4 linked regions of the Homo sapiens genome follow. The main gene of each other region encodes a partner of the protein of the gene in region 2 in a complex. Each region holds a gene or a part of one and is shown on either strand. Other genes may lie near its edges.

Region 1 (8,013 bases), on a different chromosome or scaffold from region 2:
GGGGTTTTTTTTTTGTTTTTTTTTTTTTTTTTGGTAGGGACAGGGTCTTGCTATATTGCCCAGGTTGATCTCAAACCCCTGGCCTCAAGCAGTCCTCTCACTTGGCCTCCAAAAGTGCTGGGAATACAGGAGTGAGCCACCACACCCAGCCAGTATTTTTTAAACAATATAATGTGGCAACTCTGGAAATCAGTTGTTCCCCCTTCTTGAAGATTTGTTCCCGTTGTTTGTTTAGTGACTTTTTTGAACTAAGATGGTAAAGTATGTGTTTTTTGTCATGTGTGATCACTGAGATCCCTGTTCAATTAGCTTAGTGACCAATTATAAATTTCCTAAAACGCTTGGCAACAATGCCTCTCCCAGTCTTTACTGAGGGGCTCTGTGCATATGACTTTCATGCTCAGCTAAGCCACCCACATCTCTGCCTTAGCCTTCACTTCCTGCTTGAACAGAGTCTCAAGATAAGGCAGAGAGTGCTTAGGGCCTTCTCAGGTCTTTCCTGAGCATGCATATAGCATTGTGCATGCATGTGGCCTCCTAGATTCCCAGGAATATGTTGGAGCTTTTCAAAGCAACTTATGGACATTTCAGTCTCCAGTTTTTTGGTTAGCCTGTTGTTTTCCCTAACTGTTATCTACTGCCTCAGACAGCCATGATGTTAATCAATCATCTCTAATTATTTTCAACAAACATCCCCAGGGAGAAAGACTATTTGCACTGGATGAGCTCAGAGTCAGGTCAAACAGAAACAGCTTCTCAAGTGGGGGTTTTCAGGGAATCACCAGACAGGTCAAATAATGACAACTCTCTGGGAATGGGCCTTTGATCCAACCCCATTCTCTCCCCTCCAGAGGCTACTGGGATGCTGATTTTCACTGTGATTACGGAATGTTGGTTTGCAAGGTTACCACAGAGCTGGGAAAGGGAAACAGGAATAAGGCAAGTTAAAACACCACAGAACTCACTGGTCCTCCTGAGATTCACCCATTTTTCTTGCTGGATTGCTGCAAGACTTTGGTTAATTTCCAGAGTTCTGAAAATGTTGATTCTGACCATTTCTGCCAGCCTTCTCATTACTATTATGGAGAAGATTATTTTTGGAGGTTCTTTTTCTATCATTTTTTTTCCTGATGTCTTTCAAAGTTAATATATGTAAAGCGTTTACAACAATATTTGGCACACAGGGCTACATGTATGTGCCATTATTATTATTGTTGTTAATAATAGATGACGGGCCACATATGAACCCACTTCCTCCCTCCAGAGAAGAGTGGTCCCAGGGAGCACAAGAAGGGCAGATGGGGAAGGAGAAAGATGTCCATTTGCAGAGAAAAGAGAGGGAAAAAGGCAGGAACATATTTTGGAAGATTACTGGGGGAAAGGTAGTGCTCAGTGTCACAAGTGTGGGAGGTGTGGTTCATAGCTGGTTAGGCTAAGAAGGCAAAGAGGTAGATCCTGTCAGGCTCAAGGCCAAGCAATGCCTGTTGGCCCCCTGCAATTGGTCCAGTCACCTCTCACCAGCCTGTCTCTTCCTTGTGTGGATTCTGCTCACTGCCCAGTCTTCTGCTCTGACTTTAAAAGGCAGATGGTTCCAAGGACGGGTGAACAGGACTGTAACAGCACGTCCCCATGTGTGGTCCCTGAAGAAGCTGCCTTGCCCTGCCCTGCCCTGCCCTGCCCTGCCCAGGGGAGTTGGCTGGAGGCTGTTCCTGTTTATGGGTGTGCTCAGCAGTGGCCAAGGGGCATGGGCATCCGGGCTATGCGATACCCTGCAAGCACATGGCCACACCTGTCACTCTCAGCCCTGGGACTTGGTGTTTCTACAACAGCTGGGCACTTATGAGTCTTCTGGGCCTCCAGTGGGGCTGAACAAGGGAGGGGATCTCTGGAGCAAGCAGGAGGGAAGGAAGAGGGAGCAGAGACAAGGGAGGATGGGGTCTGTGCTCTTTGCCTCACAAGCAGACTGCAAGATCTTTGGGGACTTAGCCCTAGTGTCCTTGAAGGACAGGTTTCAAGGAACACCTAGTCTGATAAAAGAGGAAATAATCCTGAAAACCAGGTGGGACATCACACTGACATCACTCTGCTCCACTGCCACTGTGGATGGGCGTCTGTAAGCCGAGGAAGGGATCTCACGTTGCTGAGAGTCAGTCCCATATTTTATAGAGGAAGAAGCAGAGGCTGAGATGAGCTTTGTCCTCCCTGGATGGTCATTTGAGGGTAGTGGGCAATGGCGATTAGATCCCTGGCTGCCTGGTCTCCATGAGCACTCTTTCCTCTAAAGTGCTGTATTTGCTAAGAATCCAGAAGCCTCTGCATTTGCAGAATAGAGGCTAGTCACGCGACTACCAGGTACTCCTGAAAAGGACCTTACCTTCAACGTGTGGTTCGGTCACACGGTAGGAAATCGAGGAATACGCTTAAATTACAGGGTGAGGAAATGCTTTGTAACTCTGACAGGGTCTGAGCTAAGACAGGATGCATAGAGGACTGAAGTCCTGACAAAAGGACAGGTGGAGGTCGGGCATGGTGGCTCACGTCTGTAATCCCAGCACTCTGGGAGGCCAAGGCAGGTGGATCACCTGAGGTCAGGAGTTCGAGACCAGCCTGACCAACATGGTGAAACCCCGTCTCTACTGAAAGTACAAAAATTAGATGGGTGTGGTGGTGCATGCCTGTAATCCCAGCTACTGGGGAAGCTGAGGCAGGAGAATCGCTTGAGTCCAGGAGGCAGAAGTTGCAGGGAGCCAAGATCATGCCACTGCACTCCAGCCTGAGCGACAAAGTTGTCTCAAAAAAAAAAAAAAAAAAAAAAAGAAGGTGGGGGCAGGTGGCTCACCTACAGCCTACAGCCATGTCCTGCTTCACAGACATTCAACCTGTGCAGCTGCTCCAGGCCCAGAGCCCACAAGGGCCCATGTGTGGTTTCATGTGCTGCTGTCACTGCCTTGAAATCCTTGGTAATTTGGAGCAAGGAACCCTGCATTTTCATTCTGCACAGGACCCTGCAAATTCCATCGCCTATGCTCTCTCCTCTCCTGCCTTGAGGCCAGGAACAAACCTGCCAGCCCCATGGGTCCCCCTAGCCTGAGGACACAGAGCCACCTAGCTTTTCTTTGCAGGGAGAGAGTGAGCAGGTGGGGCCCAGAAGTCCCTGGGCTGGTAGAGCTGCAGTTCCTTTCTTGAGCCTGCCCAGCTCTCTGCTCTGGGCAAAAAGCCCCAAGGTCCAGCCAGACAGAAATAGCTGGGACAAACGCCCTCGTCTTACAACCCAGCCCCAGCCACCAGCACCACACATGCAATTCATATCTTCTTCCCTGGGCAGAAAAGGCTGGGCGGCTGCCCTATTTCTAGGCAGAGAAACCTGCCTTCCTTCGCAAGGGCAACTTTGCCAGGGGGATGACGGGGAAGAGCAGGAGGTGGGGATCGGGACGGAGGGTGGGTACGTTACCCCCGGGCAGGGTGATGGGCCCGCAGGTCTTGCTGTCGTCCATGGGGATGCGCTTGGTACAAATCCGCCAGAGGCCGAAGTGGGCCGCCTCGCAGGTAGTGTTGTGGTGCTCCATGTGGGGGCTCAGCACAGCCCAGTGGTCGGTTACCACGGCTGTCATGGCCAGCACGATGCCTGCCAGGATGCAGAAGAGGGTCACGCGGACCTTCAGCATTTTGGTCTGGGACATGGTGGTCGCCGAGGCGTGGGTGCCCTGGGCAGGGTCCGGCGGCTGCGTCTCCTAGGGCAGGTGACAAGCCGAGCTTGGGGGGTGGCAGTGGTTGTCGAGCTGGGAGTGGCCACTAAGTTTAGTGTGCCTGGCTGAGCCAGAGTGGGCTGGCCTTGGGGCCGAGGGACGCGGGACGTGCTGAGCAGCTGCCCAGACGCGTCAGGGGCCTGAGGGAGGCTGCTATTAATGCCCATCTCCAGGCGTGGCACCGAGGACAGCTTCTGCTCGGGTTTCAGGGTTTTCTGCCCCTCTGGGAGCCAGAAATACCCCAGTGCGGCGGGGCAGGGTGGCAAGGAGAGAAGGCTCTGGATGGTAGATTGAGGCCTCTGTGAGTAGCAGCTCAGGGTGCCTGAGTTGGGAGAGGGCGAGAGGTGGGCAGCAGGGCCCCGGGGGTGGGGATCTGCCTGCTCTGGGCTGATGGGAAAGGGCAGCCCAGGCCAGGGGAGGAGACCAGGAGCTGCGGGCTGCACGGCTGTCCCGGGCTCCCACGGGGTAAGCCTGTTACCGGCAGGGCAGTGAGTAGGTTCTCATCCTGGGATCTGAGGGGCTAGGATTCTGTCTAATGACATCCCGGGAACCCAGTCCAGGGCCTGTGGAGTCCACCTCTTAGGCAAGCGTTTTAGCCACAAACCCCACGGCATCCCCCAAACCATAGGAAGGTTTTAGGTGGTTCCCAGGTCTGGCCTTACCCAACTCTGATCCCTCCACGAGAACATTACTTCCTTTTCAATTCTCTTTCCATCCCCAAAACTGGGTCCAGAGCAAAGCTCTGTTCGAGGTCAGTGTCATTATTGCCTGTAAAGTGTCCTTTGAAACAAAGCGAGAACGGCCCGAAGAGGACGAGGAATCCTGCTGGACTTGGTCATTCTGTTTTTCAGGGCACTGTTTGGTTTTGCCTTCTATTAACAGCAGGTGATAACGACTTTCCAGTTATGTTTGAATTTGAAAAATAAGTGTGTGAGTAAAAAAGAATGAATAGGTTGATTTATAGGGGATCATTAGGAGCTCATGGGCGTGCAGAGAACACAGAAAGCCCGGGATCGACCACCCTCCGACGGTCCTGTGCACCCGCCTGGCCCCCAGGCTGGTCTCCGAGGCTCCAGCCTCTACATCTCTCCTGGGTTGTGTCATCTCTTCCTTCTCGGCTCACAGGGTGGCCCTTTTTGGGTGTAGCCGAGAGGCTGACGCATGACCAGGAATAGCCTCCTGAGCTGGGTGGGGCCTTGAGCTTCAAAATCCTGGCCTCAGATTGACACGATTTACAGAGACTCTGCCCATGTGGACAGAAATGTTTCGGCCTCCAGCCTTAGAATCACAGAAAGTTCATGATGATGATAATCAGAACAGTGGCTCATCTTCAGTGAGTGCTTACTATCTACCAGGTACCCTGCTAAGCCTTCATCCATTGTCACAGTTACTCTTCACACCAATCCACAAGGGGACTACAACGGTTACTGCCATTTCACAGACAAGGACATGGAAGCTCAGAGACATGAAGTCACTTGTCCAAGGTCACACAGCGAGAAAATGAGGAATCCAGGTTTCAGGACCCAGAGCCCAAAGTCATAACGAATGGTTGGAACTGGGAAGAAACTTCATGATCTATTGTGACAGATTAGGAATCTGCAGCCCAGAGAGGAGATGTGAGGAGCCAGGACTACCTGGTGAACAGCCCCAGGGCTGAGCTGAACCCTCGCATCTCCAGCCACTGGCTTGTGCTTATTGCAGTTCCATCCAAACTTCCATATTTTTAAAATCAGTCTCTCATACATATTACAATCTCCTGAGAGCTTATCTCCCCACTGTTCTCATCTCTGCTTCCCTTCCTCCCTGTCCCCCCACCTCTGTGTTCCCTGTGGGTGCTAATCCATCACAACTGACTGATCACTGACTGACTGTTGACATATGCCACCGCCCCTGCTTCAGCTCGTGGAGAAACTGCCTGTCACCAGGTGGGTAGACCATCTCCATGGGGAATTCCCAGAAGCTGGGACATGGCTGCAGCCTCTGAGCCCTCTCTTGTTGTTTGTGGGGGCCCAGCTTCAGGATCCTGGCACCTGGGGATCTCAGGAGGTGCTGTACAGCTTGATTAGACCTACTGAGTGCCAGGCACCCAGCAAAGCAGTAGCTGGGGAGCCAGAAGAGGGTTCCAGTGTTTTAAGACAGAAAATCTAGAAAGAAGCTATTTAATTTTAGCATTACAAGTAAATACAGTGTCATTGGAAAAATGAAAGTGTCTTTTGAATTTCCTGGTGTGGTGGGGGTGGATGCCCTAAGCTCTTCGGTGCCAAGAGCCTCTGACGGCCTTGGAAAGCACCCTGAAAGGGCCCAGCCCAGAGGGTGCACCCAGCGCCAGCCATGATGACATTGCAGGCCCTTCAAAGATGCCAGGCCTTGGTGAGGACAGCAACCAGGAACTTCTGCTGCTCTTTCCCTCCATGGGGGGCAGGTTTGTGCCCCATGCAGGGGTCCAGAGTCCTCCGCCCCAGTGCAGTGAAAGCATTAAAGATTGATGGCCTCTGCCTTTTGAAGTCATCTTTGTGTAAGTCGCACCAGGAGACCCGCAGCTGCAGCTACTGCGGGCAGGTCCACTTTCTCTTCCCTGTTTACTGAAAGCTCCCTCAAATACACCTTTTCTGCTCACAGAGGTGCTGCCGCGCTGCCTGCCTGGTTCCCCAGGGGCCTGGAAGGGCCAGGAAGGGACTTCAGTAGCCACAGGCATTTGCTGAAAGTTGGGCAGGGCAACATCCATGTCCTCCCCCAAGATCTCACCCTTTCCAGGGCAACAGGGAGAGGAGCATCTCAGGGAGGCAGCATGCGAGAGGGGGACCAAGCTAGAGGGTGATGGAGCTGGCCAGCCCCGAGCAAATCCCTGCACTGCTTGGCTCCAGCTGTGCACGTTCCAGTAAGTCATTAGCCTTTCTAAGCTGCCTCTTGTAAAATGAAGGCAACGGGCCTGGCTGCGGAGCAGGTGGAAGGGCTGGAGGGAGTGCGTTGGACCAGCTTAGCCATAGTAGGCGCTATGGGCTGAATCATGTTTCCCCCAAGTTCATATGTTGAAGCCTAACCCCCAGTGTGATGGTGTGTAGAGGTGGGATCTTTGGGAGATAATGAAATGAGCTCATGGAAGTGGGGCCCTTGTGATGGGAGCAGTGTCTGTATTAGTCTGTTCTCACACTGCTAATAAAGACATGCCCAAGACTGGTAATTTATAAAGGAAAGAGGTTGAATGGACTCACAGTTCCACATGGCTGGGGAGGCCTCACAATCATGGCGGAAGGTGAAGAAGGAGCAAAGGCACGTCTTACATGGCGTTAGGCAAGAGAGCACGTGCAGGGAACTGCCCTTTATAAAACCATCAGATCTTGTGAGATTTATTCACTATCGTGAGAATAGCAGAGGAAAGACTCACCCTCATGATTCAATTACCTCCTACTGGGTCCTTCCCATGACACAGAATTATTACAATTCAAGGTGAGATTTGGATGGGGACACAGAGCCCAACTGTAGCAGTGTTCTCATAAGAGGAGACCAGAGAGTGGCCGTCATGCATTTAATAGAGTACTGAGTACTTGATTCAGCGAAGGACGTAATGGTAAGAAATCAATCGCCCTGGATGCCTGGTACTCACAGTGTTGTGGGAAATTTGGGGGGCTCTTTCCTGTTCTGTTCTCCAGATGTTGATGCTTACTTGTACCCCTGAGATGTTTTTATCCTATCTGCACCAGTCCAACTCCCTTTGTTTCGCAACCCCCCTCTGCTAGCCTCCACTTCTGGCAGCTTTTTCTGGCTGCCCTGCCACGGTGGCCATTTCCCTCCCCATTGATCCAGGACCCTCCTGAGGACTCCAGAACATACAGGCCAGCCAGGGCTTGGGCCATAGTTAAGTTGGGGCACAATAAGGCCCACGCTGGGATTTCTGTCCTGCCAAGCAGAAGACCCACTCCCTCCCCTTGAGGAGTCCACAAACTGTTAGGGCAGCTGAGATCATACTGGGAGGGGCTGTGGGGTCTCCTGGGACAGAACTCAGCCTACGTGGAGAGGTGTGGAGAATAGGAGCTCCAGGCAGGACATGGGCCCCTCGGGAGACTTGAGCCCGCAGCTGGGGTTCTCAAAGTGCGCCCTGTACACCCCTGCAGGAGGAGAGCAGGCAGCCCGTGATTTAAAGACTTTTATGTTTCTTTTTTTGAGATGCAGTCTCCCTCTGTCACCCAGGCTGGAGTGCAGTGGTGTGATCGCAGCTCACTGCAATCTCCGCCTCCAGGGTTCAAGCAATTCTCCTGCCTCAGCTTCT
Region 2 (8,086 bases):
TCCTTTTCAGTGAGTTGGGTTTTTCTCTATAATTAGGGTATACCGATCTGGGAGGTTGAAAGCAGCTGGCGAGCTTTTCAGATGAAACAGAGAGGGAAGGATTCTAGGGCCATGGCTGGCCTCGATGGCCCCTTGTTGAATTAGAAACAGGCCCCTCCTCTGAGTATTCGCGGTCATGCGAGGGTAATTGAAGCTGCAGCCAGCAGAGTGCACTCTGGAGTCCAGCTCCCACTTGGCCACTCTGATACATCACTTTGGGTGCAATCTGGACAGCCCAGGAGAGAGGGAGAGGGCAGGGGGCAAGCCTAGGAGACAGGGCAAGAGAGAGACAGGGAGGGAGCAGGAGAGCATGGCAGTGTGCTCCCTGACACCGGCCCTTTCTCCCTAGTGGTCTGGCTGAAGGCAGAGCAGGAGGGACACTCACCAGTGCTGCCTGCTAAGGGGTACCTGCATGAACCAGGCATGGCAGGGGCCAGCGGCCTGGAAGGGGCAGCGGTTGGGAGCACAATGGTAGATCAGGATCTTTGCCATTCGTGGTTCGGGAGAACAAGAAGCAGGAAGGAACCAGAGATTGACCAGAACAGAGACAACAGGCCACGTGATCTTCGGAGGAGTCTCTGGGAACTTCTGCTGCACCTGGCACTAAAGGATCCAGGAGCTGACTGTGGAGGCAGGGAAGGGAGGAAATGGGAAGGCAGGAAGAGCTGGGAAGCACAAGCTAACTTAGCCTTTGGGGGCAGAGTGATGTGTGGGGCCACCAGCTTTAAGAGCATGCTGCCCTTTGGACCTCCTGGATGAGGACCTGGAAACCAGGGATAGTGCACAAATGGGCATGCTTGGGGCTGGCTTCAGAGGCCGGAGTGGTGGCTGGTGTACGTGGTGGGGCAGTCAGGGCAGCCTCAGGGTATGGACCAGAGGTCTCAACACGAAAGTAAAGAGACACATGTAACCAACAGAAATGACGGGGAGCGGGCCGTACACTCAAAAATCTCAAGAATCCTGAGGCCTCAGCAGAGGGTGGGAAGAGCTTTTCAGCTGGAAAGCGTAAGCATCCCCCAGTCCTCAGAGCCACTGGGTAGCTACGTGAGAGGCATTTCTAGGATGGCCGACCTGGTGACAAAATCCTCATTAGCCCTTTTTTTTTAAAATTAACATTCTTCTCTTTGATTTCATTAGAGCAACAAAGAAAAGAAAAGCCAAGAGTATAGATTAATAGAATTTGAGATTTTTGTTGAAGATGCAAGAGGTGTATCTGCCGTACAGGCCTGGCTGCAGCTGGGTGCCTGTGTGAAAAGACCCTCATGCTAGATCTGCCCTGTTGTGTGTGCAGGGAGGCCCATCCTGGAGGCTGGCCCCATGGGAGGGCTCTTCTCAGGGCTCTAAGGAATTTGTTTTATTACTGTCTTTCATTTTAAACCTTAAAGATTTACACAAGAGTACAGTCTCACATACTAAACCTCATATATATAACCAGCTTCAACAACTTTGGACATTTTGCTAATCTTGTTCCATTTATCTTCTCTGTCCCCATTTTTTTTTTGTTGGAATATTTTAAAAGCAAAGCAACTCGTAAACATTTAGACTCTGGCCATAAACACTGCAGCAGTTTAAAAACAGAACTACAAAATATTATACCAACAAGATTAACAAAACTACTTTCAATCATTTAGTTCCCAGTCCATATTCAATTTCCCCCATTTCCCTCTAAAACGTCATTTTAAAGTGTATTTGTTGCTTCAGGATCAAGGCAAGATCCTCCCATTGCATTTGTTCAATAATTCTAGTACGTCGTTGAAATTCCCTAACGGTTTCACCCTAGAAGGGGTTTTAAGAACTTCAAAGCCTTAATGCCGGGCATATGAAAACGCCCTTCCTGTTCTTTCTATCCAAGCTCCAGGAAACCACATCCTATTCCCTTGCAGGAGGAGGGGAGTGAGGATGGTGTGACCACAGGGAGTCTGGTTCCCAAGGATGCCTGTGAGTGTTCTAAGCAGAGAACCAGCGGAGGGAAAGCAAAAAGGGAAACCGAGCTTTGCTCATAAATGTAGGAGGTTCTCAGCCACCTAACTTGGTGAACAACCCAAATATAGCCTAACCTACAGGAACAAGGAAATGTCAGTAAAATCAACAGTCCCTTGATAGCATGTTATTGACTTCAAGCTTGAAACTGGCGATAATATCTGCAATCCTAGGTCAGAGGAAGGCAAGCCCAGGCCTTGCACAGGGTATGGGATTTCAGGGAGCAGGGAAGTGAAGCCTGGAGGGAGGACCTCTGATCTCTGACATTAAAGCTCTTGAGAAGCAGACTGCCTGCCAATTTAGGTATCAGATAGAAGCATAAAAAGATGGAGTCAGTAAGCGCGCCTTTTATAATGAGACCTGAAATCATTGCCTAAAGCAACAAGTGGGACATCTGTGGTGGCAGCTGTCCCTGCACTCGGCACTGCCTCCTGAGTAGGGGCAAGGCAGACTTGGGATTGACTATTAATATTAAGTGAGCATAATGTTGCAACATATGCCATACTAATACATTATATAAATTAATGATGATTTTACAACATGTAATGTAACAAAAATTTAAATGTACACTGAATCCAACTTGGAAAGGACACAAAAGCACTGCTCAAATGTGATCTCATTATGAGGAAACCAGAAACAAACCTGCCTCCCAGATGCTGACTGATGATGCTTAAATATAGAGATAGAAGACACTCAGCAGTGGAAGGTACTTACAGAGGGACACTGGAACCATGGTCCCTAATATATGGCCACTCCCACGTGGCTTTAGAATTTAGATCTCTGCCCCCAATCTCCCAATCCCAGGTTAGGCAGTGGGACTGGTACCTGTAGTTTCTGGGTTGGGGTAGGGGCTCTTATCCTCATTTTCATTGGGCTGGAGGTCATCCATGTTGATCTAGACAGTCACAGGGGAGAAGGGGGAAGAATAGTTAGATACGTCCCCAAGTTAAGAGGCTTGCAGTAGCCTTGAAGTTGCATTTTAGTCAGTGACTTAGCTCAAAAATAGGTACTTGTCACTTTGCATATCTCCTTCAAGACATCAGCAGATGGCTGGGATCCAGCCAATCTGCCTTATCTTCCCCCTCCCAGCTCTCCTGTTCATCCCCACTGGCTTTCTTTCCACTGGGTGTCTTTCTTTCTCTCCTCTTCTCCACAGGGTTCTGGCCTGGGAAGGCTGTGGCCCTCCCTCCCCAGCACCGGCCTCACAGCTCCAGGAAGGAGACAGCTCCTCACCTTGGTGGCGGGTGGAGACTCTCCGTCAGCCGTGATGGATTTCAGCTCAATCTTCTCCTCCTTGGATTCCCCCACTGCCGGCTTCTCCACCAACTCTTGTTTCTTCTCTGGGCTGGCAGTCCTGGCCAGTCAGCAGCAGAAAAAAATAAATGGCTGTTTACTGGAGTGATAGGGAACAGTGTAGGAGGGAACCGCCCTGTGGCCTGTTGGGGCCAGAGGGGACAGATCCCCTGGGTCTGAGTCCATCTTCCTTTCTCCAGGACGCTTCTCGTGTGCAGCTCAGTCACAAGTGCTATGGGGCTGAGCTACACCTGCTCTGCCTGACACGCAATTGGCCTCTTGCAGCTCCAGAGATGCCTGGGTCGCCAAAGCAGAAAAGGATGGTGGATCTCATCTAGGATTGGCTCCTGGAGGAGCTCTGCTCAGTGCCCGGCAGCTGTGTGGCCTGGAACTGTCCCGTCTAGATAATGATAGGATACAACATAGGGCCCCGTCTTGCCTTCCTAACACTGGAGATGAATTATAAAGTAGTGAGGAGGACTCCCTCTGTAAGCTGGAGCTGCGTTTCCCAACTGAGTGGTTACCTTTCTCTCTCCCCACCCTACACTCCTGCCACCTATCACAGCTTCTCAAAAGATAATCCCAGCAGGTGGAGAATATGACACCATTGCAGAGATTATTATAATTCATGATGGTCCCTACCAGAGTGATGCTTAGGAATTAGGAGAGAGGCCCAACTTAGGAAGCCCCAAACCCAGAGTCCTCCTAGGAGGGAGAGCCAACAGAGGCTAGCAGTCAAGCCTCTCTCTGCCACCAGTGGGAAGACATTCCACAATGGGAGCCCTGGAGCCCCAGGCCTGGGCAAGCTTAGAGGGTTACCTGGCCAGCTTCTTTCTCTCCTTCTCCTCTTCCTCCTCCTTTTGGGCAGATGTGAGGCTCTCAGCATCAGCCAGGTTGTCCACAGCAATGGCCAAGAACACATTCAGTAGGATATCTGTTTGTGTCCATTCTTAAAGAAAATGACCCTTGGTTTGGGGTTTTGGTGGGCACAGGGGCACGGGGGATGTGGGGCGTGCAGGGTAGAGCTCCTCAGCAGAGAGAGCTTGAGGGGGAAGCAATTTGAGGGAGTCAGACCCCAACAGTGTTCCTCCCCTCCCCTTCCTCCCCATCACCCTCCTAGCTACCTGGAGCTATCAAGAGGGATGAGAACAGGCTAGCCTGCACACTGGAGCAGGCGGGAGGGAGGCAGCAAGCCCTGCCTTGCACTTTAATTGCTGGGTTTCATGATTGCTTTCCCTGCTGAGATGACTGGCTGTAATTGACATTATAAACAGCATTGTCTCTAGCAGGATGCAGAACGCTCTTAAGAGCGGTTTATTATAACTGGGCGCTGAGGGGGTGGCTTGGTATCTCTGCCAACTCTTAATGTGAGCCTGCACCCACGAAGACCCTTGGAGGGTCCATCTGGAGCCAGCCAAGGCTTGGGAGTTCCCAGTGGAGACAGTTCTTTGCCCTTTCTCCTCCCCACTCCACCAACAGAAACACTGTGGGTCAGAGAACTGCAGAATCAACGAAAGCATAGCTGGAAGGGGGCTTTAAGTCTGTGAAGTCTGACCCCCGGCCCCAGGCACCCAGACATTCATATCATTTCACACACAGGGAAGCCGCAGCAACCCAGGCTGGGGAAGAGGGGCTTTGTCCAGGGTGGCTTCTGAATGTGGCAGAGGCCTTGCATGCATGATCCCATGAAAACTCCCAACGACCCTTTATGTAGTAGGTTCTATGATTCCATTGCCACATTTTACAGACACTGAGGTAGAGGACCTTCAATCTGCAAGAGGTCATCCAGCTGGGAAAAGAGGAAACCTTGTCTGCAGGCTTCCATGACTGTGTTTTCTGCACTGCCTTAGCTGGGACTTGGCCCAGAGCTGTTCCTATGTTACCCCTGGCTCTGGACGTGACTCTCTCGGGGTTATGAGCTGGGGAAGAGAAGCAGCACCCGTGGCTTGTGCCCTGGAAACCTGCCCCAGCCGGGATCAGGAAGGAGCTTTTGGGGCTGTTTGAAGTCTGTGCAGCTCTGCCCGTGACTAAAGTCCTGGAGAGCAGCATCAGAGAGAGGGCTGCTGACCAAAAAGCAGGAGGAGAGCTGAAGGTCACTTGAAGGACAACGGCTCATCCTCCCTCCCGGAGCGTCCCGCCTCTGAGCAGACGCCGCGGCCCCAGGGCAGCCGGCCCGCTCCCGCGCGTCCCTATCGCAGGCGGTGTGAGTGGCCGCACACGCCGCAACGCCAGGGGGCGCCGCTCACCCAGATTACGGCGACAGCCCGCCCGGAGCGCGGCGCCGCTGCGGGCCCGGAGGGTTCAGGAAGGTGAACCTCACCCATGCCAAAGCTGCAGGTTTCCACCCAGACCCACCTCCGCCGCCATGGGGTTCTAGGCTGGGTGGTGTGAGCCCGAGCAGGACCGCCCGGACCTGAGGGGCGTGCCCGTTTGGCACTGTGCTGCAGGCTGGGGGCTGGGGGCCGCAGGGGTGGGGGGCAGCAGCAAAGGATACAGTTTCCACAGATGAAGAGGATGATGAAGTAAATACAGACTAACATCCCTGGAAAAGAGGGGCCGCCATAAGCCATGATCCCATCATACATCACCGAATTCCAGTCCTCCCCGGTCAGGATCTGAATGACACATTCCCACCAATAAGGGACACAGCGTTAGACCAACAGCAAACCCAAAACCACCCTGCCCTGCCCCACTACGTCAACAAAATTGTCCAAAATTTCCCTTTCACTTCTTTCCCTCCTCCTGGCCCCCAATTCTCCTCCCCAGGGGCTCTGAGCTATTGAACTGTCCTTAGACAAAATGCCTGGCTATTGGCATAATATTATTTGAAGGGTGACTAAAAGGGCTTTTTGGCCCAAAGATCTCTGACTTTCCCCACACATGCTTGAGCTGACCGTCAGCCATTCCTGGGGGTAAGGCGTCAGGACCCTTTTGCAGTTGTGTGTTTGCTGAGACAGCCACAGGCTACACCAGCTTTCCCCAAACATTCGTCACTGGGGCATCATCTTCAAGACTTTGACAACATCTACATGTGATTCATTTTTACCTCTCAATCGATCTGCTTTTAAACTTAAATAGATGCCACTTTGAGTTTGCCCTAAGCCAAAATATCTATGAAATCACAAATTTGATGGGCTAGTAATATTTTTTTCAAGAGACAAGCATGGTAGGAAAGCCAGGGTTTCGTCACCCTCCCCTCCCCCAGTAAGAGCAGTCTGCTTTTCTTTATGTTTTGGGCTTTCATGGAGAATTTAAGTAAAGGATTCCATGGATAAGAACGATTTTTTTTTTTTTTATTTGAGACGGAGTCTTGCTCCGTCACCTAGGCTAGAGTGTGCAGTGGTGCAATCTTGGCTCACTGCAACCTCTGCCTCCTGGGTTCAAGAGATTCTCCTGAGAAGGCATTTTTAAACCACTTATATTGTTTCCCCTAATGGTCCACCCACTAGTGGAATTCCATGGCAGATGGGGACAGGGAAACTACAGAAAAAACTCAAGACTCTCCCGGGCATGGGCTCTCCAGGGCTGATCTAGGATGGCTGTGGCTGCCCGGTAAAAGGGTGCAGCTTCCCACACTCCTCCCACCACCCCGCCACTCAACCACCCCGAGTCCGAATCCCAGCAGAGAAGAGTCCATACCTGAAACACAGTGAGGAGGGACTGGGGGAAGTTATCGAATGTGCTCCTCCGGGTCTGCATCTCATCAAAGTTGAACTTTCCTCCAAAGAGCTGCATCCCCAGGAGGGAGAAGATGATGATGAAGAGGAAGAGGAGAAGGAGCAGGGAGGCGATGGAGCGCACAGAGTTCAGCAAGGATGCCACCAGGTTGCTCAAGGAGTTCCAGTACCTGAGAGCCAACAGGAGGGAGGTCAGCACTCTGCCCCTTGCTGTCCTCCCCATCGTGCCTCATTCTCACAACTGCCCACTGCAGGTTCTCAGAGGAGCTGCCACTCTATGCTCTTTTTCCCTGCCCGTGGGGGATGCGTGTTGGTGGTGGTGTGAGTTGCCACCCTGGAGGGAGTTAATTCAAGGTCTCAAGATGATTAATCTGTTGGGGAAGAGAGGGGGACAGTGGTCAGAAGCCCGCGACCTAGCTCTGCCGGCTACCTGCTGCATGTGCCTCTGGGCAAGACATTTCACTTCCCTGCCTTCTGCATCCCCATCAAAAAAATGGAGATTGTTGTAGCCCTTGCTTCATTAGGCTATGGCAGGATTGCGTGACATGATCCACCTTTCCCCAAAGAGCCCCCTGTAGAGTGCCTGGCACATAGTTGATAAAGGTTGGTAATCATTGTTGTCACTGTTGGTCTCTAAACAGAAAGAAAGCTTTTTTTCCCCCACCATGAATGCCAGTCTGAGCTCAGCCTATAGGCAGCAGCCTTCTAGCAGAGGCAGGAATTAGGTCACCCACGGGTAAGAGAGAGTTCATGGCTTGGTGGTTTCCCAAGTTTACGCTGTCCTAAGAATTGTTTCTTTAAGGGCCTTTCCTCTTGAGATTGTGATTCATTAGCTGTAGTTTGGGGCCCAGATATCTTTGTTTCTAACAAGCATCCTACAGGATTCTGATCAGCAGGTGAGTCTGGGAAATCCTAGATTATAGCAAACCTGTCACACCCACTGGGGCAGCTCAAAGCACGAGTCCTCTGAGTGGGCAGGAGCTCGGTCCTGAGGGGACATGGGCTTTCAGTGGGATTCCTGGGGAGGAGGTCCCCACTCCTTACAGTCCTGGGGCCTCTCTCCACTATAAATACAGCGATCCTGGGAAAATCCCTTT
Region 3 (8,086 bases), about 46 Mb from region 2:
AAGGGCGGCCCAAACACATCTTTCCCTCCACCAGACTTTGGGCCGCATCACAGACAGAACAGAAGCCGGAGGGACTGTGCATGATGTTTATTAGTGATGACAGTGAGGTGAGGCAGGGGCTTGTGGAGCATGCTCTGTAGGTCACACACTAGAGCCATAAGGCAAGAGTAGCCGGGGAGACAGGTCCTCTGTGCCCTGTCTCTCCCCATCTAACCCTAACCTAACAAGCGGCAGCTATGAGTCAGGGAACAAAGTCTGGAGCCCGGTTCTCCAAAGATGTATGAGGGACAAGAACAGAAATGACAGGATGCAGGGCAAAAGAATGAGAAAGGCAAGGAGGCCCCCCTAAGTTCTCTGCTACACATGCCCTCCTTCCCCAAACCCCCATCCAGGTTGGCTCCCATCTGCCACTTGGCTTCACCATGCTCCTGGTCCCTGGTCCTGTCACATGTTAAGAAGCTTCCTGGCAGGGTGAGGAGAGCCCTTCCCTCCAAGAGCTTCAGCTGTGAGCTCTCTCTGGCCCGAGCGTGGCCAGCCTGCTGCTCCAGTCTTGGATGTGGCTGCCACACCCCAGCAAACAGATGGGTGTGCCACCCTGGGGGGGCTTTGATTGTCTCATTTCTAATGTATGGCAGTGAGGTGACTGGAGGCCCTGGATGCCAAAGCAGTCCCTTGACTGTCAGGACTTGTGCCTGCTCAGGGACCTTGTTTCTTCCTCATGCCATGGTGCCCACACCCCACCCTTTTGTCACTTTAATGGGGCATCCCTTCCCTGAGTCTGGTGGGAAGGACCCTGCTAAGGGGATCCTGGCCTGAGGGCACTGCCCAGTGGGGCAGCTTCCTGTGTGGGAGGAGAGGAAGGTGCCAGGGGTGCAGAACACACAGCTAGTACCTGGAATGGGAGCCTAGTAGGGGTCACTGCCCAGGAGGTGAGGGGGTCCCCTGTTTCTCCCAGAACCTTGGGACCACAGGCAGCCCTGAAGCTGGGGCTGGGCAGGGGGTTTTGGGGGCTGAGCCTAGTGCCAGCCTGATGCCAGTCTAACGCCACCCTGCCTGGAGTGGGCCCCCCAGCCAGCTGCGCCTGTGCCTGCCAGGGTAGGGCAGCAGGAGGCTGTCAGTAGCTATCCTTGGGCCAAGGCCGGTTGCGCTGCCAGTTCCGGTCACTGTGGTTGTGCTCTGAGTCCTGGGCTAGAAGCCGGTCTTGGGGGTCATGCCCGTTAGCACTAGGCAGCCCCGAGGTGTGTTGGCGGTGAGGCTGGTACAGGTCCTGGTAGGCATCTGCATAGTCCTCCTCCAGGTGGCGGGAGCTACGCTGTGAAGATCCTGTCCAGGCTTGGCGGGAGCTCTCGCTGGCCTCATCAGAGGGCATCAAGCTGTCCCGCTCAAGGGGGGAGTGCTCCTCGCCACGCTCCCCCAGCAGCTGCTGGTTCTGGGGGCCATACAACAGCTCTCAGTGAGGCAGTACAGACCTCACCTTGTCTTCTGGTGAGGTGCGAGATTCTTCCCCCCTCAACTCTCAATTCCCCGGTAAAGGAAATAGTGCAAGGAAAAAGCATGCTGGAGCATTTTTCCTCTTCCGAGAGAGAAAACTGGAGCTTCGACTCCCGCAAAATTCAGGCTCTGCCTTCAAGGCAGCCTGGGAGAAGGTTTGGAGATTGTGTTTCTCTTGACCCCTAGGAAACTAATCTCTGACGTATCCATCTCATTGATTGATTCCCTCTCTCCTCAGGAAGTTCCTTTGCCCGTCTGTGCTAGCTCTGTACAGCAGAGCTGAGAGTTCTACAATCCTTTGGCATGCTGAACTGGAGGCCAAGGACAGTCCTCTGGGCAGGGAGGGGCAGTGCCTTGGCTGGCTTAGCTTGAGCATCTCTGCCCACTGGAAATGGTTACCTGAAGTCCGGGGATGGCACTGGGAGGACCCAGAAGTCCGGGGCCAGGGGCTGGGTGGTGCGTGGCCCGCCAGTAAACCTCCAGGTACTCAGCCAGGTGCTCACAGGCATCCTCCAGCTGGTTCTCATCCAGAATCACATCAAATGACTCCTGGGGAGGGGGAGGAAGGCGCAACGTTGGTTTCCCCTCAGTAGCAGCCCCCCACCCATCTCTATCACTGCCGCAGCCCTGGGGGAGTGGGCACAGGAGCAGCTGACCCAGGCACTCACCGGTGGGCACTGAACCAGCTTATCATATGCCATCATCTGTACGGTCAGGTGCTTCATCTGTGACTTCCCCCGGGAGCGAATGAGACGCTGGAGTACCTGAGCGGGGAGGGCAGAGCTAGGCCTGGAGTCTCTCAGGACTCTGGGCAGAGCTGAGCCCGGGCAGAGCTAGGCATTTCTTCCACTTGTGGCATCAGTAGCAGGTGAGGATGACTCAGAGTTGTGTTAAGGGCAGCAGGAAAAGGGAACTCAGGTGCCCCAGGCAGGGACCAAGTAGAATCATGCCACATTCTAGTAGGATAGCCCTGTGGGCCTCCTCCATGAGCCCAGCTGACTTACCTTTGGTGAGGACACTTTGACAAAGACGATGATGGGGGCCAGCGAGGTCTTGGCCAGCTGTGCTGGGTGGTTGATGGTGTCAGCGTCCAACACTACTAGCTGCAGGGATTTGGCCAGCTCAAATATGCGCTCGATCTCACTCTGCACTTCCGCTATGGAGGGAGGCAGCAGCAGTGCTCACCAGGAGCTCTGCCCACTGCTCACTCCAGCAGGCTTTGAGGGCTCCCGAATGGTGGACAGGAAGGAATTGGAGGAAAAGGGCATTCATCGAAGCCTGGACAGGCAGAGGAATGGGAATTGAGGAGGAGGGGTGTGTTCTTGCCAATCCTGGGGGCAGGTAGAGGAGTTGGGCAGAAAGACAAGGAGGTAAGGAAGAGAAAAGGGAAGAGGGGCCAGGCATGGTGGCTCATGCCTGTAATCCCAGCATTTTGAGAGGCCAAGGTGGGCCGATCACTTGAGGTCAGGAGTTCGAGACCAGCCTGGCCAACATGGTGAAACCCCACGTCTACTAAAAATGCAAAAATTAGCTGGGCGTGGTGATGGGCGCCTGTAGTCCCGGCTACTCAGGAGGCTGAGATGGGAAGATCGCTTGAACCCAGGAGGTGGAGGTTGCAGTGAGCCGAGATCTCACCACTGCACTCCAGCCTAGGTGACAGAGCGAGACTCCATCTCAAAAAAAAGAAAAGGGAGGAGGAAGGTTCTCACTGGCACTTGAGTGGGCACAGAAGCAGGTGGTGGGGACTTCTCACCAATGCTGGAGCGGGCAGAGGAGCGCTCAATGATGGTCCTCTTGCCCGGATTGTTGAGCACAGATCGCTTTGCCAGGGAGAGGTCGGCTGTGACTCGGGTGATGGAGATCCTGGGGTGGGAGTGGAGAATCACAGCTTGCTTCTAAACCTGTGCCTCAGCCTCTCCTTACTCAGCTCCCACTAACTCTTCCCTTAGAGAAGACTAGCTACAGGCATCTGGAAGTAGGCCATGAGCTTCTCCTTGGTTCTCAGGCCACCTCAGGCCAGGGCAGCTTACCTGCCATCAAATCTGTGTTTGAGGAAGTCGAAGAGAGCCTTCTGCATCATGTCTGTGACCTGGGGGAAGGCATGGCACTGATGAAGGGCCCCTTTGGAGAGAAGCAGCCTCCCCATGCATGGCCCCAGAGTCAATGCGCTCCACATACACACCCTGGACGGAGGAGACACACCCCTTCCACTTTCCCTAGGGACTTCCTGTGGCAGGCTTGGTAGAGGTGACTCTTTGGGGTCAAGGACCTCCTCTCACCTCATAACCTTTCAGAGAGGGTCCCACCAGCACCACAGGCCGCATGGAGGGCACCACGTCATATGGGGGAACATGTTCCGCCTGCAGAATGGACATGAGGTCAGTAGAAACCATGGCCCTGGTGCCTGTCTCATGCCTGGTTGGCGTCAGGGCAGATCCAGAGGTTCTGGGCTCCCTCCCCTCTCTGTTCTGCCCTCCAACAATGACTGCCTAGAACACTGTCCCCAGAGCCATAAGCCATGATCCCCCCAGCCCAGGTCCCTTCCTTGACTCACCTGCTTTTGCTTCTGCTTGGCTTTTTGGAAAAGGAAATACAAGATTAAAGTTGGTGAAGGGGGAAAGGTCCCTGGGGGCATGGTATCCCCGTCCCCAGGGGAGATACTGGCTTCTCCCCACCCCTTCCAATCCCTCCACAAACCCTTCCCACACAGTTCACTTGGGCAGGATCCCCTCTTTCCCTGTGTCTTAGCTACCCACCTACCCAAAATGGGTGGGTTGGGGGGAGGCTACCTAGAGATGGCGGAGGGGAGCGTCGGTTGCCAATGTCACTCAGGCTGGAAGGGTTCCCAGATCTCCTGAGAAGAAAGGGAGGTGAAAGAGAGAGAGAGAAGAATGTGTCTCTGTGTATGTATGTTCTATGCATTATTTAATAATTGTACACAATTCCATATGCTTTATCTAGTGAGACAGGTGTACATGCAATATGTGTGTGTGTTTGTAGATTTGTTTAGTGTTGAGTGTGTAGAGCTGGGCATACGTGTATGTGTATTTCAGGGGGATATGCATGTGTATGGCATGCATGGTGACGTGTCCTGTGGGTACAGTGCAAGTGTTTGGGGTGTGTTTACTGACTCATGGCCCAACTCTCACCTGGCCTTCTGCTCCTGTTTGAGCCGGATGCTCTCCAGGCGCTGGGGGCTGGGGATGAAGGCGATGTCCCCGCCCTCTTTCACTAGCCGCCCGATCCACCAGTCATTGCTGTACTTCTGGGGGCAGGTGGAGCAGGAAGGGGTGGTGAGAGAAGCGCCCCGCCCCAGTCCTGGCTCTTCAATGTGAAGGAGCCAGCGAGGCAGTCACTGAGCTGGTCTGAGGAATGCAATGCAAGGGGCGGTGGGCAGAAGGGGCCAGGGGAAAGGACAGCCAAGTTCGGGCCACCCAGGATTTCTGAGTGAGGCATTGCAGCTGTCACAGGGGACCTCGGAGGCAGCTAATCTAACTGCTCACTTGACAGACATGGAGACTGATGCCCAAGCCAGGTCTCAGAAGGATGGAGACCCTGGGGATGAGATCTTAGATATGAGGGGTGGACAGGTGTGTGTTAAGGAGAAGAGCTGATTAGCTTGGGGAATTAGACTGAGGATTCAAGTCAGAAGCATTAGGATCTGGAGCAAGAGCAAGAAAATGAAGTTAGAGGCTTCTGGAAGTAGGGGGGTCGATCACCTCTTTAATGTGCAGAAAATCTTTGGCCTCAAAGTTGACTCCAGAGCCCTGGACTGGGCACTCCTCATCCAGTACGCCACAGTAGCTGACATTGGTCCTCACCGCAAATGCCACAGGTTTGTGCTGGAGAATTTGCCCATTAGTGCAAGTGAGAGAAGGCTCGAAGCACCCCTTCCAGCTTCAGTGCCCCAACAGCAGAAGGCCGTGGCCTCTGCCCATCACACACACCCTCTCACACTCAAGGACATCCTGCCCAAGGACCCCTTGGGACTTAGGACCGAGTGCAGGTTTCCACCTAGCTTGGCCTCCTGTCTTGCCCCATGCCCAGAAAGTATACCTTGGCCCTTTCGAGCTGCTGCTGAGCCTGGCTCTCTACTTCACGCCGGGCACTCTCCCGGTCCTCCTCCAGGGAGACGTCTGAGTCCAGAGATGGGCGGCTGGTGTAGGAGTCGGCTGAACCCTGGGTTGGGAAAGAGGCTGTGACTCCCAGGCTCCGGCATGAAGGATGCCATGGAGGCACCCTCCTCACCTTACAGTGTTGCCTCTATTGCCCCCAGTTTCTCCATCTCCAAGGGGATAGCTGGGTCCCTATGGCCCCTCCTATCCCCTGAGAAGGGCCCCAGTGCCTCTGAGGCTACAGGAAAGCTGGCCCAATCCATAGGTGCAAAGATCTGGGCCCCTCCTCCCCCAAGCCTATTAATACTGCAGCTTTGAATAGAGCCTTCACTTCTCTCTTTCCTCCCTTTTCTCCCCTCTAACATGTCCTCTGAGCCGAGGGAAGGGAGGTGTGCTGAAGATGATGTATTAGAGATGATTCTGGATCCAGGAGACCCAGCCCTCTTGTTCATAGCAGCCTGCAAAGCAGCCTGGACATCATCCCTTTAAGATGCCTGTCAGGAGTCCAGCCAGCCGCAACAGTCAAGAGATGCTGGTTGGCACAGCACCAGTCCTGAATGTGGGGATCCAGCCATCTGCCCCCTAAGATTCCACTTTCCCTACTCCAACAAGGCTCTGAAGGCTCCCAAATGGTGAGCCCTTACCCTTCCAGGGTGAAGAGGAGGACACAAAGCTGCCAGCTCCTAGAAGTTACCTCCCCTTTGCTCTCCCCACCCCCTACTTTTCTTCCTTCCACACCTGCTGGGGCAACTAGCCAGGTGTGGGCAGCAAACAAGACACAGACCAAGAACACAAAGCTGTCTCCCTGGGTGCAGGTGAGGCTGGGCCACACCTACCACTTGGCCTACATCTCCCTAGTCCTTTCCCAGGCCCAGGGGACATCAGCCCTAGAAGAAGGCTATGCTAGTGCCAGGCAACCTAGCTACGGAGCAGGACCCCGGGGATGTGGGGAGGGGGTAACATGAGCAAGGAGAGTCTCTGAGTCCTGCCCATAGGAAAGGTCTTGGGCAATGAGGGTGCATTTGACGGTCACAGAGTTCAGCCTCAAGACCATGAGGGAGAGGCACAAATGAGTAAGGGACGCTGGACTTTGAGACAAGAGCCCAGAGGTTACAATGTCTGGGTTTCCTCCTCTGTCAGGGAAAGGGAGTCTTTCGTTTCCTGCCTCAGTTTTCCCTCTCTGTGGGGAGAAGCCTCAAGTGATACTTCCCACAATTCTGAGATGCCAGTGGCAGAGAGAAGGGATAAGCCTAGATAAGGGGTTCATGCAGGAGTGTGTGTGTGTATAGGGGAAGGGGCTTTAGAATGTCCTCAGGTAGAGGAACATTCTCTCAAGCTCACTGGGCATGACCACCTACGGAAGGCAGCAGAGGCCAGACTCTCAGAGAAGAAGGCAAAATCACATACCTGCTGTCAACCATGCCCTCTACCCCTACCCTGCCGTGGGCAAGAGGGCTGTTCAGCTAGGGGTCAGCCCAGGCTCTCGAGCCTTAGGCTAAAGACAGTGTCTATAGTAGACCAAAGGCCTGAAGATAGCACAAGGGGGAAAGATCTTTCATTTTACAGAAGAGTAGTCCGCCGACTGTTCCTCATCTCTCCTGAGAACAAAATGAGGCTGGATGGCAGCAGGATAAGTGGGGGATGAACCCCAGAAATAATCTTTGCACAGGGTGAGGGACCTCCTTCCCAGGGGTCTTAGGACACAAGAGAAACCTCTGTGGGATGTTGGTGTCTGAAGCAACCAGACAGGGGCCAACAGACTGGGAGGCAGGAGGCAAGGCAGATGACCACTCGCTTTGGTACAGATACATTGGGTACCTCCCAGAGGCCCAGAACTGTGCTAAAAGAGGAGTCTGACCTTTTCTGCCTGTGCTCCAGGCTCTCAGCCCAATTTAGTAATCTTTATTTTTATTATTTTATTTATTTACTTAGAGACAGGTCTTGCTCTGTCACCCAGGCTGGAGTGTAGTGGCACAATCGTAGCTCACTGCAGGCTTGAACTCCTGGGCTCAAGCGATCCTCCTGTCTCCTGAGTAGCTACGACTACAGGCATGCGCTACCATGCCTACTAGTTTTTTGTAGAGACAGGATCTTGCTATGTTGCCTAGGCTGGTCTCAAACTCCTGGGCTTAAGCCATCTTCCTACCTTAGCCTCCCAAAGCATTGGGATTATAGGCATGAGTCTCTATGCCTGGTTTAATTTAGTAATTTTTTTTTTTTTTTTGAGATGGAGTTTCACTGTGATGCCCAGGCTGGAATGTAATGGTGCGATGTCGGCTCACTGCAACCTCTGCCTCCCGGGTTCAAGCAATTCTACTGCCCCAGCCTCCTGAGTAGTTGGGACTACAGGCATGTGCCACCATGCTGGGCTAATTTTTATATTTTTAGTAGACACAGGGTTTCACCATATTGGCCAGGCTGGTCTCCAACTCCTGACCTCAAGTGATCTACCTCGGCCACCCAAAGTGCTGGGATTACAG
Region 4 (6,316 bases), about 55 Mb from region 2:
CGCCCCCCTTCTCTCGGGCCCTTTGCTTAATTTCCTATTAACTGCTGATAAATCCAATTAAACCGCCGCTCTAATTAGGGACAGCTGCCGGCTCAGTGAGGCTAGGGAGGGGGGCGCCCCCCGAGTGTTGGGGGAGAACAGCCGCTCTCCCTGCTTCTCGGCATCCGCACACCAGCATTGCCGCCCAATGAGCCAGTAAATTGGTTTTGCCTTAGCATTGGCGGGGGTCTCTCGAGGATCTCGGGGGGCTCTGATTTTGAGTCCCTCAGACCTTGATGAATAGAGACGACCCGAGCCCTCGCGGTCCCTCCCCTCATACATTCCTGGTAGGTGGATTTCAAGGAAGGATAAGGACAGAATGCTTGATTTGCGTGTGGTTGGTGTGTGTGTTTGCCTGTGATCTGTTCCTATTCCAGCTCAATCGCGATTAAAGGGGGGGGTCTTCTTTAATGACTCCGCCCCCACCCCCTCAGGCATCCGGGACCGTCAAGGGCAAAGGGAACAGAAAACTGAACCCGGTTCTGCAGAGTCTTCTTGTGTGCTTCCCTACCCCCATCACACCTCAGCCTTCTGGAAGGGGGGCGCGCCCGTCCCAGGCCTCCTCTTCCCCAGCCCAGCTGAGCCTCTGCCCTCCCCCCGCCAGCAGCAGATGGTGCCCGGGCTCCCGCTGCCAACCTTGCTAGGCGGTGCCAACCTCGGTCCTGGCAGACAACGGGCAGACGAGAAGAGGAGCTCCTGGCTGGCCAAGCCGACCCTCCCCCACCCGGCATCGAGCTCAAGACCCCCCCCACACACGCCTGCCCCACTCCAGCGACCACCCCAGCCTGCCTCTCACTGGGTCCGCTCTCAGGTCCCCAAACTCCTCGTCTCCTTCTGCTCCCTTCCCCACACCTTCCTGCTCCTCGCCACCTGCCGCCCTGACCAGGGCCGGCGTATTTGCATATTTGCATATGCAAATAATAACATTTGCATACGGTGCTCCGCAGGGGTGTCTCCGCGAGAGCCGGTTAGCTGTCTGCCCTCCGTTCTCACTCGGTACCTGTCGGAAAGGGTTAGGGCAGGGGCCGCGCGGGTGGGGTTAGGCCCCCGGCCTAGCTAGCTCGGTTCTCGGAGGACTTGAGGAAGTGTTGCCATGGAGACGGCACGCACCCCACCCCCTCCCAGGCCCAGGGTCTCGGGCTTGGTGTCTCTGGTTGTCTCCCCTTACCCACCCTCCACCCCCTCCCCATCCCTCGCTCTCCAACCGAGATCTTGCATCGCCCCCTGGCGGCCTAGCTCGGCGCCAAGCCAGATTCCGAAATGCAAGGGGCTGCCTGCGGCTAAATCGCCAAGAGCAAGGGGGGACTTACCCTACTACAAGATCCTGCTCCCAACCGCTGGGGCGCGGGGGCGGCGACTCCAGCCCTGCGCTCCCCTTTCTTTACTGACTACAGAGGCCTCACCTGGCGGGCGCACTTCCCACCTCCCGCCAACCTCAGCCCAGATGGGTCTCAGGTTACCCGATGGTAACGAGGCGGGACAGCTAGGGAGGATTCTCCACCCCTCCGCAGGCCCTCTCCTCAACCCCAGTTAAATAACAACTTTTCTAAGTTTTGTCAAAAGTTTAATAAATTCGCAACATTCGACAGTTCGCCCTCCCTCGCCCCCGCCCCCCGCCCCAGTCCCTGGCTCCTCCTAGTAGATACGCGTTTTTTTCCAGCTCTTGCAAGCGGGGCCTGAAAGGTTTCGGGTCCGGGCTGCTCTGGGCAGCAGGTATCCGAGGCCCCAGGCTGGGGAAGGGGGCGAGAACCAGTCCCTTCCCGGAAGCCCCGTCGCGCTCAGGCGGGCCTTCCTACCCCTCCTCTCCCAGCAGTCCCGTTGCTTTCGCCCCCCTCCCCAAACTCCACTGGGCCCGCCCAGAATGGGGTGTGGGTGTCTCCCGCTTGCAGGCGCCCGCACGCCTAAATTTCCTCTAGAAAGTCGGTGGGAAACAGCCCCACCTTGCGGCCGGTGTAGACCTTGACGTAGCCGCCCGCTTCGTCTCCTTTCTGCACCACGATCTAGAAGATTAAAGGATCAGAAGTAGGAGAGGAATCAAAGGAAAAGGTAGGAGAGGACAGCAGGGGAGCCGGGGTTTACAGGGGCTCACCCTAGTCTTATTAATGGTTAAGCTCTCCAAGGAGTGTGGTGGGCTAGGGAGCATTCAGGCCTGGGATTGGGTTGGGGCAACAGCCTACCTGGTCCTTCTTGAGAGTGATCTGCCCTATCTCGCGGTTCCCCACGAAGGATCTCGTCACGCGGTGCACACGTTCTCCAGCCCGGACCCGAATGATGAAGTTTGGAGGGAAAAATCCGACCTTCTCCCCGATTTTCCCCTAGGGAAGATAGTAGGGAGAGTCCATCTCTCAATGTCGGGTTCTGGACTCAACCCACACTCCACCCTAGCCCTAGCCATTTCTCTCACCCGCCACCATTCTTCATTGGAGTCATCAATGACTGTGATCTTCTCTCCTGGCCTGGGAGGGGAAGGGAGGGGCCTCACTCACATAGCAGGTCCCCTGCTGTGCCCCGGGTCCAGCATCAATAGGCTCCAAGCCCTGAGTCCCCCCTTTTCCTTTCCCTTGGGGGAACCCAGCTCTTTCCTCTTCACTCCGCAGTACCAGCCCCCTGCCCCAAGGCCTCTCACGGGAAATCCAGATCGTCCTTCTCCAGGGCTTTGAACCGATAGAGAGCCACAAAGTAATGAGACTGCTGGAAGCCAGGCTGCTTGTGCTGGGGGTGCAAGGGAATGATGAGTCTTAGGGCTCCTCTACCCCACACTGAGGGGCAGGATTCCAAGGCAGGGACATTCACCACACACTCTACACTCCAACTCTCTTCTAGGTCCCTGAACTGAGAGAAGTGTTTTGGTCGTGGGTGGGTGTGCAAGTTGATGGAGAGTGTGGGTCAGAAGTGATGGGAAGCCTAGGAGTTAAAGAGTGAGCTTCTGCCAGGGCCATGAGTAGTGGTGTCAGAGCTGGGTTGGGGAGAGAACTGGGTTCCTTGCAGGGAGGAAGGATTCTTACCTTGTCATCAGGTGTCTTCTTCTCAGCCTTCTTATCCCCTTCAGGGTTTCCTGGGATAGGAAACACCAACAAATTGTCTGTCTCCTGGAGGGCAATTCTTATTCTCTTACCCTTTTGTGGAAGGGCCTCGTCTATCCAAAGCTGGCCTGCCCTTTGCTCCTCCACCCTCTGTTCCACAGCTGAGCCTCTGATCCTACTCCATCTCTGGATGGAGGTGGGTAACACTCACCATCCTGGGGTTTGCCTTCCTCTGGTCTGGCCGACTCTGGCTCCTCCTCCATCATGGCTGCTACAGGCTGGAGGGGGCACCAGAGTTAGGGAGACGCTGTCTTGGGAACACATGCCCTGGCTGTCTATAATCAGGTCAGAGAACTATAGAATAATGGGATCTCAGAGATCTCAGAGTTGGAAGAGGCCTTGGAGGAAATATCTAGTTCAGCCATCTGCCTAATGCAGGAACTTTTTTTTTTTTTTTGAGACGGGTCTCCCTCCGTCACCCAGGCTGGAGTGCAGTGGCGCAATCTTGGCTCAGTGCCAGCTCCGCCTCCAGGTTCACGCCATTCTCCTGCCACAGCCTCCTGAGTAGCTGGGACTACAGGCGCCTGCCACCACGCCCGGCTAATTTTTTGTATTTTTAGTAGAGACGGGGTTTCACCGTGTTAGCCAGGATGATCTCAATCTCCTGACCTCGTGATCCACCAGCCTCGGCCTCCCAAAGTGCTGGGATTACAGGCGTGACCCACTGTGCCCGGCCATGCAGGGACTTTCCCTAAAACATCCTATCAGGTGGGTCACCCACATTCTGCTTGAATGTAGCTAAATAACAGGGAATTCACTACCAGATTCCAGGTCCTTGACTATGCTGTCAGCCTTTAAAAATACTCCAGTGTGTAAGTAAAAAGTGAGCAGCATGGTCAGGCGCGGTGGCTTATGCTTGTAATCCCAGCACTTTGGGAGGCCGAGGTGGGCGGATCACCTGAGGTCGGGAGTTCGAGACCAGCCTGACCAACATGGAGAAATCTCCTCTCTACTAAAAATACAAAATTAGCCAGGCATGGTGGCACATGCCTGTAATCCCAGCTACTCGGGAGGCTGAGGCAGGATAATCGCTTGGACCCGGGAGGCAGAGTTTGCGGTGAGCCGAGATCGTGCCATTGCACTCCAGCCTGGGCAACAAGAGCGAAACTCTATCTCAAAAAAAAAAAAAAAAAAAAAAAGAGCAGCACAATTTTTATAATTCCCTTAAAAGAATATAACCCAAGAGTATGTTAGCCCTTCTGGAAGCAGCCATATCACATTGCTAGTGCCTTACAAGTCATTAATTCACTCCATAGAAATCCCTTATCTGTGTCCAACCTCCATATCAACAAGTTTGAGGCCAGATTTCTAGTTGTTTTTTGCAGTTGATTTTTTTGATCAGATATGTACATTTATCTTTTCTTTTCCCTTCCTTCCTTCCTTTCCTTCCTTCCTTCCTTTTTTTTTTTTCTTGACAGGGTCTCACTTTCTCCCCCAGGCTGGAGTGCAGTGGCTTACTGCAACCTCTGCCTCCCGGGTTCAAGCGATTCTCCTGCCTCAGCCTCCCAAGTAGCTGGGATTACAAGCGAGCACCACCACACCCGGATTTTTTATTTTTATTTTTGTATTTTTAGTAGAGACAGGGTTTCACCACGTTGGCCAGGCAGGTTTCGAACTCCTGACCTCAGGTAATCTGCCCACCTCGGCCTCCCAAAGTGCTGGGATTACAGGCGTGAGCCACCATGCCTGGCCGAGTTTTGTGCAATTTTAGGGGAAGACAATCCATTACTTCTGTCAGCTTTCCAAATGGGAAAATGACCTGCTCCATGGGATCTCTGGGAGGGACCTCGTGGGGAGGTACAGTGCTCACATTTTTCTTATCTGCCTGTCCCTTCTTCCGTTCCTTGTTTGCCATGATCACCCCAGTGCGCAGGGTTTCAAACACAGGATCATTGCGATTGGCAGCAGCTAATCGAATGGGAGGAGAAAGAAGACATTATTGGGAAGGCAGAGAAAGGCTTGGAGGAAAGGAAGGGAGAGGTGGGATTGAGTAGATGGATACCCATGTGTGTGTTGGGTGGCGGTGGGGGCGCCGCGGGGAAGATTAGGGAAGGGTCAGCTAGGCAATACCCAGGACACCAATCTATAAAGGACTTTAAAAACATCACTGGTGATGTAAAGTGAGGGAGGAAAGTATTTATTAGAACTCCTTCCAGGCAGAGCATTATATGATGTTTGAAACACAACTTTGCTTGCTTGGGAGCTGAGACATGCGCAGAATCACTATTCTCCTTCTAAGGAGAATGGGCCCTTAACTGCTGGCTTTTGTTCTGCTAAATGGCATGTGTAAGCTGAGGTGCTGCCACCAATAGGTTCTTCTTTTTCACCCATGCTCTTCACAGAGTTCAGCCTCTCCTCCAAATAAATGTTGAGCAAATTTGTCAATGAATATGTTTTTAAGGGTTGCCAAATTATTATTATTATTATTATTATTATTTTTTTTTTTTTTTTTTTTTTTGAGACGGAGTCTCGCTCTGTCACCCAGGCTGGAGTACAGTGGCACAATCTCGGCTCACTGCAAGCTCCGCCTCCCGGGTTCATGCCATTCTCCTGCCTCAGCCTCTCCGAGTAGCTGGGACTACAGGCGCCTGCCACCACGCCCGGCTAATTTTTGTGTGTTTTTAGTAGAGACGGGGTTTCACCGTGGTCTCGATCTCCTGACCTCGTGATCCACCCGCCTCGGCCTCCCAAAGTGCTGGGATTACAAACGTGAGCCACCGCGCCCGGCCTGGGTTGCCAAATTATGAACCTGCCCAGGGTGCCTGCAGCCTTTGGGTCTTGCCCCGAGTCTGATATGACTCTGTAGTAAGGATGAGGACAATCTAGAATCCTTGTTCTTGCTTAGAAATGATTTTGCACACAAAGAGCACAGATTCTGAAGCTAGCAACTGAAGATTCCAGTCTTGGCTCTACCTCTTGCTAACTGTATGTAGTTGCAACTAAATCGTATCTCCCTCTGCTGTAAAATGGGGATATTGCCTCTGCATCCAAATGGATATAAAAATGTGAGGTTGAGGGAGAATTATGGGAAACAGAAAGTTTCTGTTTCAGAATTTGGCTCCCAAAGCTAGAGATGGCATGAAACCATCTCTAGGCTTGCCCATTCCCTCATGTTCCATAAAGGGCACTTACAGAGATCTTTGACACAAGCGTACTGCTGGTTGCTGTAGAGTGGGGAACTATAGGCCCGATGG

The links.
Region 1: CACNA1C (region 2) and CACNG1 share a complex: the UniProt entries of both Homo sapiens proteins name them as parts of the calcium channel complex.
Region 3: CACNA1C (region 2) and CACNB3 share a complex: the UniProt entries of both Homo sapiens proteins name them as parts of the calcium channel complex.
Region 4: CACNA1C (region 2) and STAC3 share a complex: the UniProt entries of both Homo sapiens proteins name them as parts of the calcium channel complex.

The regions. Positions count from the first base shown.
Region 1 is NC_000017.11:67,040,328-67,048,340, reverse strand, and holds the start of CACNG1 (voltage-dependent calcium channel gamma-1 subunit), read right to left. Parts: upstream 3,788-8,013; 5' UTR 3,681-3,787; coding exon 3,452-3,680; intron 1-3,451. UniProt on the Homo sapiens protein: Regulatory subunit of the voltage-gated calcium channel that gives rise to L-type calcium currents in skeletal muscle. Regulates channel inactivation kinetics.
Region 2 is NC_000012.12:2,580,663-2,588,748, reverse strand, and holds part of CACNA1C (voltage-dependent L-type calcium channel subunit alpha-1C), read right to left. Parts: intron 7,160-8,086; coding exon 6,952-7,159; intron 5,928-6,951; coding exon 5,807-5,927; intron 4,247-5,806; coding exon 4,132-4,246; intron 3,374-4,131; coding exon 3,253-3,373; intron 2,915-3,252; coding exon 2,845-2,914; intron 1-2,844. UniProt on the Homo sapiens protein: Pore-forming, alpha-1C subunit of the voltage-gated calcium channel that gives rise to L-type calcium currents. Mediates influx of calcium ions into the cytoplasm, and thereby triggers calcium release from the sarcoplasm.
Region 3 is NC_000012.12:48,820,928-48,829,013, reverse strand, and holds the end of CACNB3 (voltage-dependent L-type calcium channel subunit beta-3), read right to left. Parts: intron 5,671-8,086; coding exon 5,548-5,670; intron 5,334-5,547; coding exon 5,211-5,333; intron 4,757-5,210; coding exon 4,641-4,756; intron 4,346-4,640; coding exon 4,281-4,345; intron 4,066-4,280; coding exon 4,046-4,065; intron 3,852-4,045; coding exon 3,771-3,851; intron 3,581-3,770; coding exon 3,522-3,580; intron 3,355-3,521; coding exon 3,245-3,354; intron 2,770-3,244; coding exon of another isoform or gene 2,696-2,769; exon of another isoform or gene 2,648-2,695; coding exon 2,496-2,647; intron 2,256-2,495; coding exon 2,160-2,255; intron 2,041-2,159; coding exon 1,891-2,040; intron 1,430-1,890; coding exon 1,115-1,429; 3' UTR 73-1,114; downstream 1-72. UniProt on the Homo sapiens protein: Regulatory subunit of the voltage-gated calcium channel that gives rise to L-type calcium currents. Increases CACNA1B peak calcium current and shifts the voltage dependencies of channel activation and inactivation.
Region 4 is NC_000012.12:57,241,872-57,248,187, forward strand, and holds the end of STAC3 (SH3 and cysteine-rich domain-containing protein 3), read right to left. Parts: coding exon 6,255-6,316; intron 5,031-6,254; coding exon 4,933-5,030; intron 3,341-4,932; coding exon 3,274-3,340; intron 3,095-3,273; coding exon 3,045-3,094; intron 2,752-3,044; coding exon 2,666-2,751; intron 2,496-2,665; coding exon 2,444-2,495; intron 2,355-2,443; coding exon 2,217-2,354; intron 2,040-2,216; coding exon 1,941-2,039; 3' UTR 1,587-1,940; downstream 1-1,586. UniProt on the Homo sapiens protein: Required for normal excitation-contraction coupling in skeletal muscle and for normal muscle contraction in response to membrane depolarization. Required for normal Ca(2+) release from the sarcplasmic reticulum, which ultimately leads to muscle contraction.